2 linked regions of the Homo sapiens genome follow. The protein of the gene in region 1 interacts with the protein of each later gene in a pairwise test. Each region holds a gene or a part of one and is shown on either strand. Other genes may lie near its edges.

Region 1 (3,818 bases):
AATATTTTTAAACTATTTCCAGCTCTACAATTCTGTGTTTATGCCTCTAATGATCACAAAGCTCTATAAAATTAAGGGCAAAGACAAATAATTACAGTTCAAAACTTAGCACTCATGATTTCCCTACTGTTTTTAGAACTATGCAAAACACCATCCAATGGATTCAACTATTCACATGAGGAACTCTTGAAGTCACCAAGCTCCCAGAAAGCCTGATCTTAGGTGGACACAAAATTCTGGAAAAAGGCGTCAAGTCAATATTGGTAAAGAACACAGTATACCTTGATCTGGCCCTGTGCAGCCAAATGAATGCTTGTTCAGAGTGCACGTACCACATCTTACTTATCTATTCATCTGTTGATGGACACATGGGTTGCTTCCACCTTCGGGCTATTGTACGTAATGCTGCTATGGACATGGGTGTACAAATATCTATTAGAGTTCCCACTTTCAATTCTTTTGGGTAAATATCCAGAAGTAGAAGTGCTAGATCATATGGTAATTCTGCTTAATTTTCTGAAGAACCTCCCACCATACCATTATCCACACCATTTTACATCCTCATCAGCAGTGCACAAAGGCCCCAATTGATTTAAGTAATGTGTTAAATGGCCTTTGATGAGTCACAATTTCTCAGTACCTCATGGTTTCCTCATCTATAAAACGAGGGGGTTGGAAGGGACAATCTCTAAGTTTTCTTCTGGTAGTAAAATAACTATATTGGCCTAATTAAATCAAGTTGCAATTAGAGCCAGAAAGCAGCCTGAGTGGTTGGCATAGCACACCTTGCTATCTCGAACCCTCCTCCTAATATGACAAATACTTTTTCAGAGATAAGGGCAGAGTGTAAAAAAATCATTTCATGCATGCAGCTCTCAGCAGTAATAGTGCAGGACACTTCCTGGGCACGTACCCTGTGCCAAGCACTGCTTCAGGCACCCACACATGTTATCTCATGCCAACCACGCAGTAGCCCTGTGGGTTGTACACCCCACCTGCTGAGGCATGGAAGAATTAGGCCATTTGCCCAAGGAAATGGAGAGGAAACTAAGGCATGCAAGAATTATGCCATTTGCCCAAGGTCACACAGCCTATTAGTCAAAGAGCCAAGATCTGCCCCCAGGCAGCTCTGCTCTGGAGGCAGGTTCTTAACCAACCCAATTCTGATGCCTTTCCCTCCTCAGTGTGTCTCCTCAAGTCTTGAGTGCTCTGAACATTTCTTTTTTCTCTTTGATCACATTTCTATTTAAATGTCTCAGTCCCCTGCAAAGACTAGCTGAATGTTTTCATCTATACCATTTAAGCTTCTTGTTTTTAGGCATGGAGAGTAAAATGCACAAAAAAAAAAAAAAAATCCCAGAAATCCTCTTAGTGATTTTTTTTTTTTTAGTAATTTTATCTGACAACATTTAAGTGTTTTTAAGAAAATTACATTGAAGGTACATGCCTTGAAGGAGGAAAAAACAGAATGCTTATTATGTGCCCGGGAAGTTTACCTATATTATTTCATATAATCTGGACAATCACCCTATGGTATGGATTTTATTACCTCTATTTTACAAGCAAGGACACTGAGATTCAGAGAGGCACAGAGGCTCACCAAGGCCACTCAGCCAGAAGGTAACAGGACTGGGAGGCAGGCCCGGCACTGTGAGCCCAGAGCCCCTGCTCCTTCCTATGTGGAAGATACCCAGAGAGAGCGTCGAGTGTTATTTAGGAAAATGAGTGCTAGACGCATGATATGTAACAATCGCAGCTGCTGCCTCCATCAGTGGAGCAGCTGGCATGAGAAAGGAGCTGAAATAAAGAGAAGTGAAGGGACTTGTAGCTTCCCAAAAGTGAACCTGCAAGGAGAGAGAACAACTCAGTCTCCACTGGATGCGATTCTCCTTAGGCACCAGAGGCTGTTTCCTCTTGGAGGAAAGACCATGAGGCTATTACTGGACAGTGTATCTGCTCGTTACCAAAAATATCCATATTTACATAAAAGATATAGCTTGAAGTAACTGAGCTCACCCGGTTAAAAAGAAACAAGTCTTAAAAATTCCATAGGAATCTTAACCTTGCTTAGTACTTGTCCTAGGTTCTAGGCTAAGGGGATGATACCTAGTTTCAGATTTAGTTGGAAAGCATTCTCTCAAGAGGACTCTGAAACACGAGAATGAGGTTGAGGACTTCTAAAAATGTAAAGACAAAAAATTAGGAATGTCCAACTCAAATGGTGATGTGGCCTCTTAAGATTTCTACTAGACCTAGATTCAAAAGGCATAGGGTATCTATCAGAGAAACACTGATCTGGATTGCTAATCCAGTGTTTATATTAGAGAATATAAAAATTTATTGAGGCATAGACTGACTTTTATTTCCTACCCTTCATGGTACCAAGCCTAGTGACCTTTATACACCAATGCTGATAACAGGCATTTTTTTTATGGCTTGAACCAGTATTTTAATTTGAATTATGAACTGTGGGGTCCTTCATCTAAATATTAAAACTACTAAATCAGCTACAGTAATTGGACTAAATATGTGGAGCATGGAAAACCATTAGTATGATGAAGGTGGCTGTTGCAGGCCACAGAAGGCTGGCATGCTTTTTTACAAAAAGCCAGGTGCTGGGCCATGGAAGTAGGAAAGTGATCATGCAAAGTACGCCTCCGTCTGCAGCACGATGAGGCTGTGTTATCATGGTTTATGTTATCAAAATTGGCTGCAGCCAACCTAGGTGAGTACATTTCCCTTCAGGAAGTTAAGAAACTTCATGGCACAAATCCACGAAGACAGGCCCTTCTCTGTGACTTTTTTTTTCCATAAAATTATAAAAGCCATATTTATGGTTTCCTCTAAAATTTCTACTAATATAACAAATGAACTGTTCTTACAAAAACATGTTAGATAGGAGATATTTGGTAGAATCCCAAAGTACTGTGCTTTTATTTCTGTGAAATTAGTGCTTTCTCAGTTTCAGGAGGGTACTGACACCTCAGCTTGAGGATTGAGCTATGTGTTATGATTCACTTTGGTAATATTTGCCTCAGAAGGATTTCTGTGATTATTTCTCTTTTAGCGATGTAGAGAATTCTCAGGGACAATCAAGCCTTCAGCCCCAGTACACAGTGACCCACATAAAAAATGTCCCTGAAATGGCACTGATTATAGGGCTAGAAGTTTCTAAAGAGAAACAAGTCTTTCAACAAGATAGCAAATATTTCCCACATTTTGCTTTTGTCTCAAATTACTGAAAGGATATAACTTAAGGATAGTAATTCTTATGCCATAGATACTATCCAACAGAATATAGATTGTTCTGATTTATCCCTTCTTGAAAAACTGATCTTTTATTTGCCTTTACAACCCCTCTGCATATAGTAGGTGAAAATACATGATTTTGGAGCTCAACTAATGTGGTTACAGAACTGACCCAAATTACATGTACTTTATTTTCAACATAAAGGCGTCCAGTACATGTTTATCCTCAATTCAAAGGCATCCAGCACAGTGCCTTAAATGCACACACAGAAAAGACTTTCTCAACATGATCCATTACAACATTGCACCTGCAGCCTGGGCGTGGCACCCGGCTTTCATAAGAATAACATGGAGGCAAAATAGATCTGCAGAGGTTTGGAAAACCTTCCTTCTCCTCTCCCAGCCCTAAGAGAAAGACCCGACCGCTTCATCCTGCAACTTGAAGATGCCAACAGAAACACAATTGATATAATAACAGGCTGGGAATGGCATTTACTTGACCCAAAACTCTGGTGTGGCCTGACTGTATGAAGGGGAAACATCACCTGCCCTCAACTAAAGTTACGAAG
Region 2 (3,818 bases), on another chromosome or scaffold:
CTTAGAATGAATCTTTTTGTTTTCTTTTTTGAGACGGAGTCTCACTCCGTCATCCAGGCTGAAGTGCAGTGGCACAATCACAGCTCACTACAGCTTAGACCTCCAAGGTCCAAGTGATACTTCTGCCTCAAGTCTCCCAAGTGGTAAGGACTACAGACACGCACCACCACACCTAGTTAATGTTTTGTAAGAGACAGGGTTTTGCCACGTTGCCCAGGCTGGTCTCGAACTTATGGGCTCAAGCCATCTGTCCCCCTTGGCCTCCCAAAGTGCTGAGATTAAGCTCATCAGGCCTGAAAATTTTAACTGGACTTGAATTTTACCATTATCAACAAATATTGTCAGCTATTTTCCTTGATGTGACAGATCACTGTTCACTTTCAAGGGTGTGGAGGCCCACACCTGTAATCCCAACACTTTGGGAGGCCGAGGTGGGCCGATCACCTGAGGTCAGGAGTTCAAGACCAGCCTGGCCAACACGGTGAAACCCTGTCTCTACTAAAAATACAAAAAAAAAAAAATTAGCTGGGCATGGTGGTGGGGCCTGTAATCCCAGCTAATCGGGAGGCCGAGGCAGAAGAATCCCTTGAACCTAGAAGGTGGAGGTTGCAGTAAGCCGAGATCGTGCCACTGCTCTCCAGCCTGGGCAATAGAGCAAGCCAAATACTGAAGTCTGAATAACAAAAGCATGTCTTTCATTCTTTCAAGAAAAAGTGTTCCATGAAAAACGGACCTAGTTCAGCTCACAACTCAATTACACAAGTTTTTTTTTTTTTTTTTTTTTTTTTTGAGACAGATTTTGCTCTTGTTGCCCAGGCTGGAGTGCAATGGCGCGATCTCAGCTCACCAAAACATCTGCCTACTGGGTTCAAACAATTCTCCTGCCTCAGCCTCCTGAGTAGCTGGGATTACAGGGATGCACCTCCACGCCGGGCTAATTTTGTATTTTTAGTAGAGATGGGGTTTCTCCATGTTGGTCAGGCTGGTCTCGAACTCCCAATCTCAGGTGATCCACCGCCTCGGCCTCCCAAAGTGCTGGGATTACAGGCATGAGCCACCGCGCCCGGCCAATTATTGTTCTTTTCCACAAGTAATCAACACTTAACATGCCACAAAAGTACTTTATACAGGCCGGGCACGGTGGCTCACACCTGTAATCCCAGCACTTTGGGAGGCCGAGGCGGGCGGATCACGAGATCAGCAGATCGAGACCATTCTGGCTAACATGGTGAAACCCCGTCTCTACTAAAAAATACAAAAAAAAAAAAATTAGCCGGGCATGGTGGCTGGCGCCTGTAGTCCCAGCTACTCAGGAGGCTGAGGCGGGAGAATGGCGTGAACCCGGGAGACGGAGGTTGCAGTGAGCCGAGATTGTGCCACTGCACTCCAGCACTCCAGCCTGGGTGACAGAGCGAGACTGTCTCAAACAAAACAAAACAAAACAAAACCTTTGTACATACTTCCAATTTTGTTACATAGAATATTATGACAACTAAACTCTGATTTTTTTTTATCTTGCCCAAATTCCTATCTAAGGGGTTTGGGGAGTCATGCCCTACAAATCACAAATTCTCTTCAGAAGTATTTTATTTAACCCTATACATCGTGACTTACTTTCTAACCTGAGTCTGGCATAAAATTACAAGATACAACACAAGGAAGAAAATCAAAATATTTTACCCCAAAGCATGTTTCTTTGCCATATTTTGAAATGGCCAGGGCCGGGCGCGGTGGTTCATACCTGTAATCCCAGCACTTTGGGAGGCCAAGGCAGGCAAATCACCTGAGATCAGGAGTTCAAGACCAGCCTGGCCAACGTGGTGAAACCCCGTATCTACTAAAAATGCAAAAATTAGCTGGGCGTAGTGGCAGGCACCTGTAATCCCAGCTACTCGGGAGGGTGAGGTAGGAGAATTGCTTGAACCCAGGAGACAGAGGTTGCAGTGAGCCAAGATGGTGCCACTGCATTCCAGCCTGGGTGACAGAGCGAGACTCTGTCTCAAAAAAAAAAAGAAAAAAAAAGAAATGGCCCGGCAAAGCTGTTCTTTCTGGGGGAGAATTTGCATCCGTAAAGAATCTCTATTAACATAGCTAGATCTTTTTCTTCCAGACCCTCCCAATCCTAAAGATGTTAACTAACATCTGAATAGGAAACATTTGTCTTCTATTGTCTCTAAGGGCAGCCACTATAGGACTTCAAAAGAACTTTGTTCTCCACAATCTTTTATCTTAACCAGAACATTCCCTTTCCATCAATTCTAGGTCTTTTTTTTTTTTTTTTTTTTTCAAATGGAGTTTCCTCTGTCGTCCAGGCTGGAGTGCAATGGTCCAATTTTAGCTCACTGCAACCTCCGCCTCCCAGATTCAAGGGATTCTCCTGCTCTCAGCCTCCGGAGTAGCTGGGATTACAGTCACGCGCCACCACGCACGGCTAATTTTTGTATTTTTAGTAGAGACAGAGTTTCACCATGTTGGCCAGGCTGGTCTCAAACCCTTGACCTCAGGTGATCTGCGGGCCTCGGCCTCCCAAAATGCTGGAATTACAGACGTGAGCCACCGTGCCTGGCCTTTTTTTTTTTTTTTTTGAGATAGAGTTTCGCTCTTGTTTCCCAGGCTGGAGTACAATGGCACGATCTCCGCTCACTGCAACCTCTGCCTCCCAGGTTCAAGCGATTCTCCTGCCTCAGCCTCCCAAGTAACTGGGATTACAGGGATGCACCACCACGCATGGCTAATTTTTTGTATTTTTAGTAGAGACGGGGGTTTCTCCATGTTTGTCAGGCTGGTCTCGAACCCCCGACCTCAGGTGATTCACCCGCCTTGGCCTCCCAAAGTACTGGGATTACAGATATTAGCCACTGCACTTGGCCTTTAGTTTTTGTTTTAGTTTTTGGTTTTTTTTTCTTTAAAGAGATGGGTTCTCACTGTCTACCAAGGTGGAGTACAGTGGCACAATCATGGCTCACAGCAGCCTTGACCTCCTGGGCTCAAGAGATCCCTCCTGCCTCAGCCTCTAGGTAGCTGGGACTGTGGCCCAGGCTGGAGTGCAGTGGCATGATCTCGGCTCACCACAACCCCTGCCTCCCGGGTTCAAGCTATTCTCCTGCCTCAGCCTCCCGAGTAGCTACGACTACAGGCGTGCACCACCACACTGGGCTAATTTTTTGTATTTTTAGTAGAGAGGGGGTTTCACTATGTTGGCCAGGCTGGTCTTGAACTCCTGACCTCGTAATCCGCCTGCCTCAGCCTCCCAAAGTGCTGGGATTACAGGCGTGAGCCACCATGCCTGGCCCCAGCTAATTTTTTTTACTTTTTTTTTTCTTTTTCTATTAAAAAGATGGGGGTCTCACTAGGTTGCACAGGTTGCTCAAACTCCTAGCTTCAAGTGATCCTTCCACCTTGGCCTTGTTGTACCCAAGCGAGTTAGAAAAACGCCACACTTTGAGACAAATTAAGAGTCTTTTATTAGCCGGCGACCTAGAGACGGCTAATGCTCAAAATTCTCTCGGCCCCAAGGAAGGGGCTTGATTAACTTTTATACCTTGGTTTAGGAAGGGGAGGGGGGGTCTAGTTAAAACAATTTTACGGAAGTAAAGTAGTCAAAAAGTTAAAAGGACAAATGGTTACAGGAAAGTAAACAGTTCCAGGTGCAGGGGCTTTAAGACTATTACAAGGTGATAGATCCGGGGCTTTGGGCGTTTATCAATCGGACGAATTCCTGGGAACTGCGGATATAGCTTGCCACAGTATCTTATCAGTTAATTGCATTCTTGGATGTGCTAGGAGTCAGCTTGCACAAGTTAAGTCCTTGAGGAAGG

Evidence for each region.
Region 2: the proteins of PRKCH (region 1) and ZBTB8OS interact in a two-hybrid assay, tested with the Homo sapiens proteins (one large-scale study listed by BioGRID and IntAct).

The regions. Positions count from the first base shown.
Region 1 is NC_000014.9:61,530,865-61,534,682, reverse strand, and holds part of PRKCH (protein kinase C eta type), read right to left. Parts: intron 1-3,818. UniProt on the Homo sapiens protein: Calcium-independent, phospholipid- and diacylglycerol (DAG)-dependent serine/threonine-protein kinase that is involved in the regulation of cell differentiation in keratinocytes and pre-B cell receptor, mediates regulation of epithelial tight junction integrity and foam cell formation, and is required for glioblastoma proliferation and apoptosis prevention in MCF-7 cells.
Region 2 is NC_000001.11:32,640,503-32,644,320, forward strand, and holds part of ZBTB8OS (protein archease), read right to left. Parts: intron 1-3,818. UniProt on the Homo sapiens protein: Component of the tRNA-splicing ligase complex required to facilitate the enzymatic turnover of catalytic subunit RTCB. Together with DDX1, acts by facilitating the guanylylation of RTCB, a key intermediate step in tRNA ligation.